Regions from separate parts of the Homo sapiens genome. Here region 1 is linked to region 2. Evidence: fine-mapped expression QTL. A gene starts in region 2. The other region holds a variant in brackets. All regions are shown on one strand. Distances are from middle to middle.

Region 1 (2,907 bases), 33 kb before region 2:
ACGATGTAAATCATGTCTCAATTGAATAACTGTCTTTGCTTCTCGCTTCTATAATATGCTTCCCCCTGCACAGATCTCCCCCCAGCCCCACAAAATGCTTAAAAGGTAACTTGACTCTTTGTTCAGGGCTCAGTCCTTTGGATGTTAATCCAACTGGGTCGGTGCACCTAAATAATTAAATAATTCCTCCTCAACACCTCGGTCTCTGTGATTCCTTAATTATGCTGCTGCAATCCCATCACCCAGGTACTGAGCATAGTACCCAGGAGGTAGTTTTGGAGCCCTTGCTTCTCTTCCTCCCTCTCCACTCTAGGAGTCCCCAGTGTCTAGTGTTCACATCTTTATGCCCATGTGTGCCCAATACTTAGCTCCTATTTATAAGTGAAAACATGTGGGGGGTGTTTGTTTTTCTGTTCTTGGGTTAATTCCTTTAGGATAATGGCCTCCAGCTGCATCCAAGTTGCTGCAAAGAACATGAGTTAGTTCTTTTTTCGTGGCTGTATAGTATTCCACGGTCTATATATACCACATTTTCTTTATCCAATCCACCGCTGATGAACTCCTGGATTGGTTCTACATCTTTGCTCTTGTCAGTAGTGCTGCAATGACACTTTGGAACTTTTGAGCAGCCGATGAAGGTTTGGGATTTTCAGACTTACTTCTTCTATGGTTGGTAATGCCTATCCAAGCATGATTACAGTTTTATTAATATGCCTTCGTTGTTCCAACATTCTAATCCCTTTTTCTCGGTAAAGTTGCTATTCCTTGATACAATCTATACCTCTTATAAGAGAGAGCCAGCCTTTGTCATGGGCTTGAGACAACTTGAAACATCACGGCAAGGGTAATCCCTCCTGCCAGCCCCTCTCATCCCCAACTCTATCTAAACAATTATGGCAAAGATGGAGTTTGGAGATCTCTCTAGTGGAAAAAGGGTGTTCAGGGAATTGCGGGCCGACAGAACAGAAATTAAAAAGCCCAATTTTTGTCCCCCTGAGTCACTGATTTTTGTGCTTTACCTCCAGAACAAAAGGCCTCAAAGAACACAGGCTTTCTTAGGAAAAATGTAGTTAGCTGTGTCTTCAGCTCCCAGGGTACATCTTACTATGCTTTATGGAGCTGAACATCCCTCCCTGTATTACCTAATCAGACAGGCTGAACAATACAGTGGAGCAATGCTGAGTTTGAGGTCAGACAAACCTGCGCTTAATTTCTGACTCTCGTACTAACCAGCTGTGCGCTCTTGGGTAAATTACTTGACTTCTCTGGGTCTCAGAGTGCTCATTTGAAAAATGGAAGTAACAAGGCTTAGCTGGGCACAGTGGCTTACGCCTGTAATCCTAGCACTTTGGGAGGCTGAGGTGGGCAGATTAGTTGAGGCCAGGAGTTCAAGACCAGCCTGGCCAACGTGGTGATACCCTGTCTCTACTAAAAATACAAAAAATTAGCCGGGCGTGGTGGCACGCATCTGTAATCCCAGCTACTTGGGAGGCTGAGGCACGAGAATTGCCGGAACCCAGGAGGTAGGGGTTGCAGTGAGCCATGATCGCAACAAAACAAGGAAAACAAGGTTTATCTTCAATCAAAAGTGAAAACATCTAGCTCGTTGGCAGAACATCGAAAGAGATCAT[A/G]TGGTAGAGCAAGCATTCCGTAAGTGCTGTAAAGTGTTGTAATGCTTGTTAATCTTCACAAATGTGAGGCAGGGTAAGTATGTTTTGCTCCATTTTTGGTTATACATTCTTTTTTTTTTTTTTTTTTTTTGAGGCCGAGTCTCACTCTATCGGTCAGGCTAAAGTGCAGTGGAGTGATCTCAGCTTACTGCAACCTGCACCTCCTGGGTTCAAGCAATTCTCCTGCCTCAGACTCCCGAGTAGCTGGGATTACAGGCACCAGTCACTATGTCTAGCTAATTTTTTGTATTTTTAGTTGAGACAGGGTTTCACCATGTTGGCCAGGTTGGTTTTGAACTCCTGACCTCAAGTGATCCACCTGCCTTGGCCTCCCAAAGTGCTGGGATTACAGGCATGAGCCACCGTGCCTGGCCTGGTTACCTATTCTTTGAAGAATAATTTAGTTGCTTTGAGTAAGAGATGAAGTTTGTAGATCCAGGAGTTCTAATTTCTGGAGCAGGTGTTTCTATCATACCACAGGCAGATCACTTGATGATGCTTTTTGCTTACAATTGCAAAGAAATTCACAAGCTGTGGTTTATCTTCCCTGGTAGAACTTCAGCAGACATGCGACAGGAAATGTCTATCTTAGCCTCAGTTCCTTAAAAAGCAGAGCAGGTAGCTCACGCCTGTAATCCCAGCACTTTGGGAGTCTGAGGCAGGAGGATTGCCTGAGGTCAGGAGTTCGAGACCAGGCTGGCAAACATGGTGAAATCCCCTGTCTCTACTAAAAATACAAAAATTAGCTGGGCGTAGTGGCACGTGCCTATAATCCCAGCACTCAGGAGGCTGAGGTAGGAGAATCGCTTGAACCTGGGAGACGGAGGTTGCAGTGAGCCGAAATAGCGCCACTGCACTCCAGGCTGGGTGACAGGGTGAGACTCTGTCTCAAAAAAAAAAAAAAGGAAATTTTGATCCATGCTGAAACATGAAGATCCTTGAGGACATTATGCTAAGTGAAATAAGCCAGATGCAAAAGGGTAATTACGGTCTGATTCCACTTACGTGGAACGGACATCCCTAGAGTAGTCAAATTCACAGAGACAGAAGGTAGGATGGTGGTTCTCAGGCGCGGGACGGAGAAAGAGTGGGGAGTTGTTGTTTAATGGGGAAAGAGGTTCAGAGGGTGGAAAGTGTTCTGGAGATGGATGGTGGCGATGATCGCACAACAGTGACTGTGCTTGATGCCACTCAACTGTACACCTAAAAGTGGCTAAGATGCCAAATTTTATGTTAT
Region 2 (2,907 bases):
GCCTCAACTGATCCACCTACCTCAGCCTCCCAAAGTGCTGAGATTACAGGCATGAGCCACTGCGCCCGACTGAAAGTCTTTCTTTTTTTAAATAGACATGGGGGTCTCGCTATGTTGCCCAGGCTTATCTCCAACCCCTGGCCTCAAGTGAGCCTCCTGCCTCGGCCTCCCAAAGGGCTGGGATTTCAGGCTTGAGCCACTTTGCCTAGCTAACATAAAAGTCTTGTAAGAGGGGAGCTTCAGGTAGGTATGGGCTGGGTTCTAGGTCTAGTGATGGTTCCCATTAGACAAACATTAAACGATGCCAGAAGGCTGACAGCAAAGAGTTGATGGTTCCTAACAAAGGCAACATTAGGAACACATCTCCAAGGGGACTGAGCTCTAATGGCCATGTTGGTGCTGATTTCATTAGTGGTCCCATTTCTGGGAACCCATTTCCTCCCCTACATGGAGTATGATGTGTGTCTTCCTAGAGATGCAGGATTAGCTGTGGAGCTTTTCAGATACCTGCCCTTCTCCCCCTCCGCTGTGGAAGGTGATTGAATTTGGCCTTGCTGTTTTTAAATTTTTTTTTTTTTTTTTTTTTTGAGATGGAGTCTCGCTCTGTTACCCAGGCTGTAGTGCAGTGGTGCAATCTCGGCTCACTGCAAGATCTGCCTCCCGGGTTCACGCCATTCTCCTGCCTCAGCCTCTCTGAGTAGCTGGGACTACAGGTGCCCGCCACCACGCCCGGCTAATTTTTTTTGTATTTTTAGTAGAGACGAGATTTCACCGTGGTCTCGATCTCCTGACCTCATGATCCGCCCACCTCTGCCTCCCAAAGTGCTGGGATTACAAGCGTGAGCCACCGTGCCCGGCCGCTGTTTTTAACTTTTAAATTTTTATTTTATTTTATTTTATATGTATTTTTTTTTTGGGACTGAGTCTTGCTCTGTCACCCCAGCTGGAGTATAGTGGCGCGGTCTCGGCTCACTGCAACCTCTGCCTCCCGGGTTCAAGTGATTCTCCTGCCTCAGCCTCCTGAGTAGCTGGGATTACAGACGCCCGCCACCATGCCCGGCTAATTTGTTTATTTTTATTTTTAATAGAGACAGGGTTTCACCGTGTTGGCCAGGCTGGTCTCGAACTCCTAACCTCAGGTGATCTGCCTGCCTCGGCCTCCCAAAGTGCAGGGGTTCCAGGCATGAGCCACCGCGGGAAGGCAATTGACTTTAAAGGGCTCTGGGACCCGCGGCCCCAGGAGTTTGTGTTTGGCTTGGCAGTGAGCATCAGCTGGAAGCAGTGCATCAGGTAAGGTGTTCTCTGGTCGCTGTCAGCATGACCCACACGTCTGTGTGTCACCCTGATGGGTATTCCAGTCATTATGAGCCCTTCTTGACTGACATTTAGATCAAAACTCCCCCATTGATCCTCTCTTCCTCCTTGCCCCCACCCATGCTTCAACCCTGAGGACCGGGGCCCTAACGTCCCTGGAGCAGGTGCCAGGACCTCCTTGACACAGGCCTTGGTCACTGGAACCCTGACTGTTAGGATGAGCCTTCCCAGCAGCAGATCCCCAGACACGGACATTGGAAAGGCCACTCCAAGACCGTCCCACCCAGGGCCCTAACTACAAGCTCTGCTTCTGGAGACATTTGCCAGGTGCCAAAAACATCTCCGTTGCTCCATCTAGGAGCAGCCAATGGAAAGGGCAGCCCAGCCCCCTCCTCCTCTCCCCCAGTGGTATCCCAGCCTCCTGCCTCTCTCTTCCCTCCCCCGCCTTCCTTCCTCTCGCCTGGGCTGCCTGCCTCAGAAGTGGGGACCCAAAGGGTGCAGGACGCCTGGTCTGCCTTGTGGGTCCTGGACGGAGCCCCTACCTCTGCAAAGATGACTTGGAGACAGGCCGTCCTGCTGTCTTGCTTCTCCGCCGTGGTGCTCCTGTCTAGTGAGTACAGGAGGGTCAAGGTGGAGGGTGTTAGTTACATGGTAAGGGAGACTTACCATGCACAGGTAAGGCTGCTCAGGTGATGCAGGTAGAAAGGAGTATGCTTATTGTTAACATGTGTGTATGTGTGTGTCGTGTGCATGTAGGACACAATGCAATACAGAAAAATAATAATAATAATAAAAAACAGTAAAGAAAGAAACAAAATAGAAAAAAAACCCAAGCCAGCTTGCTTGGTGGGTTCCTGGGGAGATTGGCTCTGCAGCTGGTACGTGAGAAACCACGGGCCCCCTGCCAGGCCCTGGCAGGACGCTTAGCCTGGAAAGAGAGATGGGGACTCAGCTCAGGGTCTGGGCTCCCCTCTGATGCTGCAGCCTCACTCTGTGCCCTTGTCCTGCAGTGCTGAGAGAGGGAACCAGTGTATCTGTGGGCACCATGCAGATGGCGGGAGAAGAGGCGAGTGAAGGTGAGTGCAGGGGCCACCCACGGGGCAGGGCAGGTGCAGCCAGCGAAGCAGCAGCCCCAGCACCCCCACACTGCTGGTGACAGGCCTCTCCCGGGTTTCAGATGCAAAACAGAAGATTTTCATGCAGGAATCAGATGCCTCGAATTTCCTCAAGAGGCGCGGCAAGCGGTCCCCCAAGTCCAGAGATGAGGTCAATGGTAAGGATGCTGGAGGGACCCCATCCCGCGTCCATCACCACCTCTGCTCACACCCCCCGGCTCCTCCTCTCCCACAGTCAGCCGGGCAGCAGGATGCAGCTGGGCACGAAGGGCTCACCCCAGGGTATCAAAGGGACTGCAGCTCTGAATGAGAAATTACACCCTATTTCCTGACTGTAGGTCGTATATTGGATTGAATACTTTGTCAGGGTTAGGAGGCCCCACCTCTGCAAAGATGACTTGGAGACAGGTCCTCTTGTCCTGCTTCTTGGCCATGATGCTACATTAAACACACCTAACAGGGATAAGATGCATTGGAT

Which allele goes with the higher level. Positions count from the first base shown, and alleles are read on the strand shown. Sizes are in standard deviations (SD) of each study's normalised expression.
For the expression in uterus of the gene that starts at base 1,751 in region 2, A is the low allele of the variant in region 1 and G is the other (large effect, 1.0 SD a copy in GTEx).

Evidence for each region. PIP is the estimated chance that this variant, and not a neighbour inherited with it, causes the effect. A credible set is the group of variants that fine-mapping cannot tell apart.
Region 1: its variant is the best candidate, but not a certain one, in a credible set for the expression of UCMA in uterus (GTEx, PIP 0.71).

The regions. Positions count from the first base shown.
Region 1 is chr10:13,266,055-13,268,961 of GRCh38, reverse strand. No RefSeq gene overlaps it. Among named protein-coding and RNA genes, the nearest start is that of PHYH, 33 kb to the left of the region's middle. The variant A/G (reference allele first, on the strand shown) is at 1,632.
Region 2 is chr10:13,233,218-13,236,124 of GRCh38, reverse strand. UCMA (upper zone of growth plate and cartilage matrix associated) reads left to right here and starts at 1,751. Exons shown (of 5, transcript NM_145314.3): 1 at 1,751-1,924; 2 at 2,325-2,390; 3 at 2,492-2,587. The coding sequence starts at 1,867. RefSeq lists an enhancer at 1,138-2,048.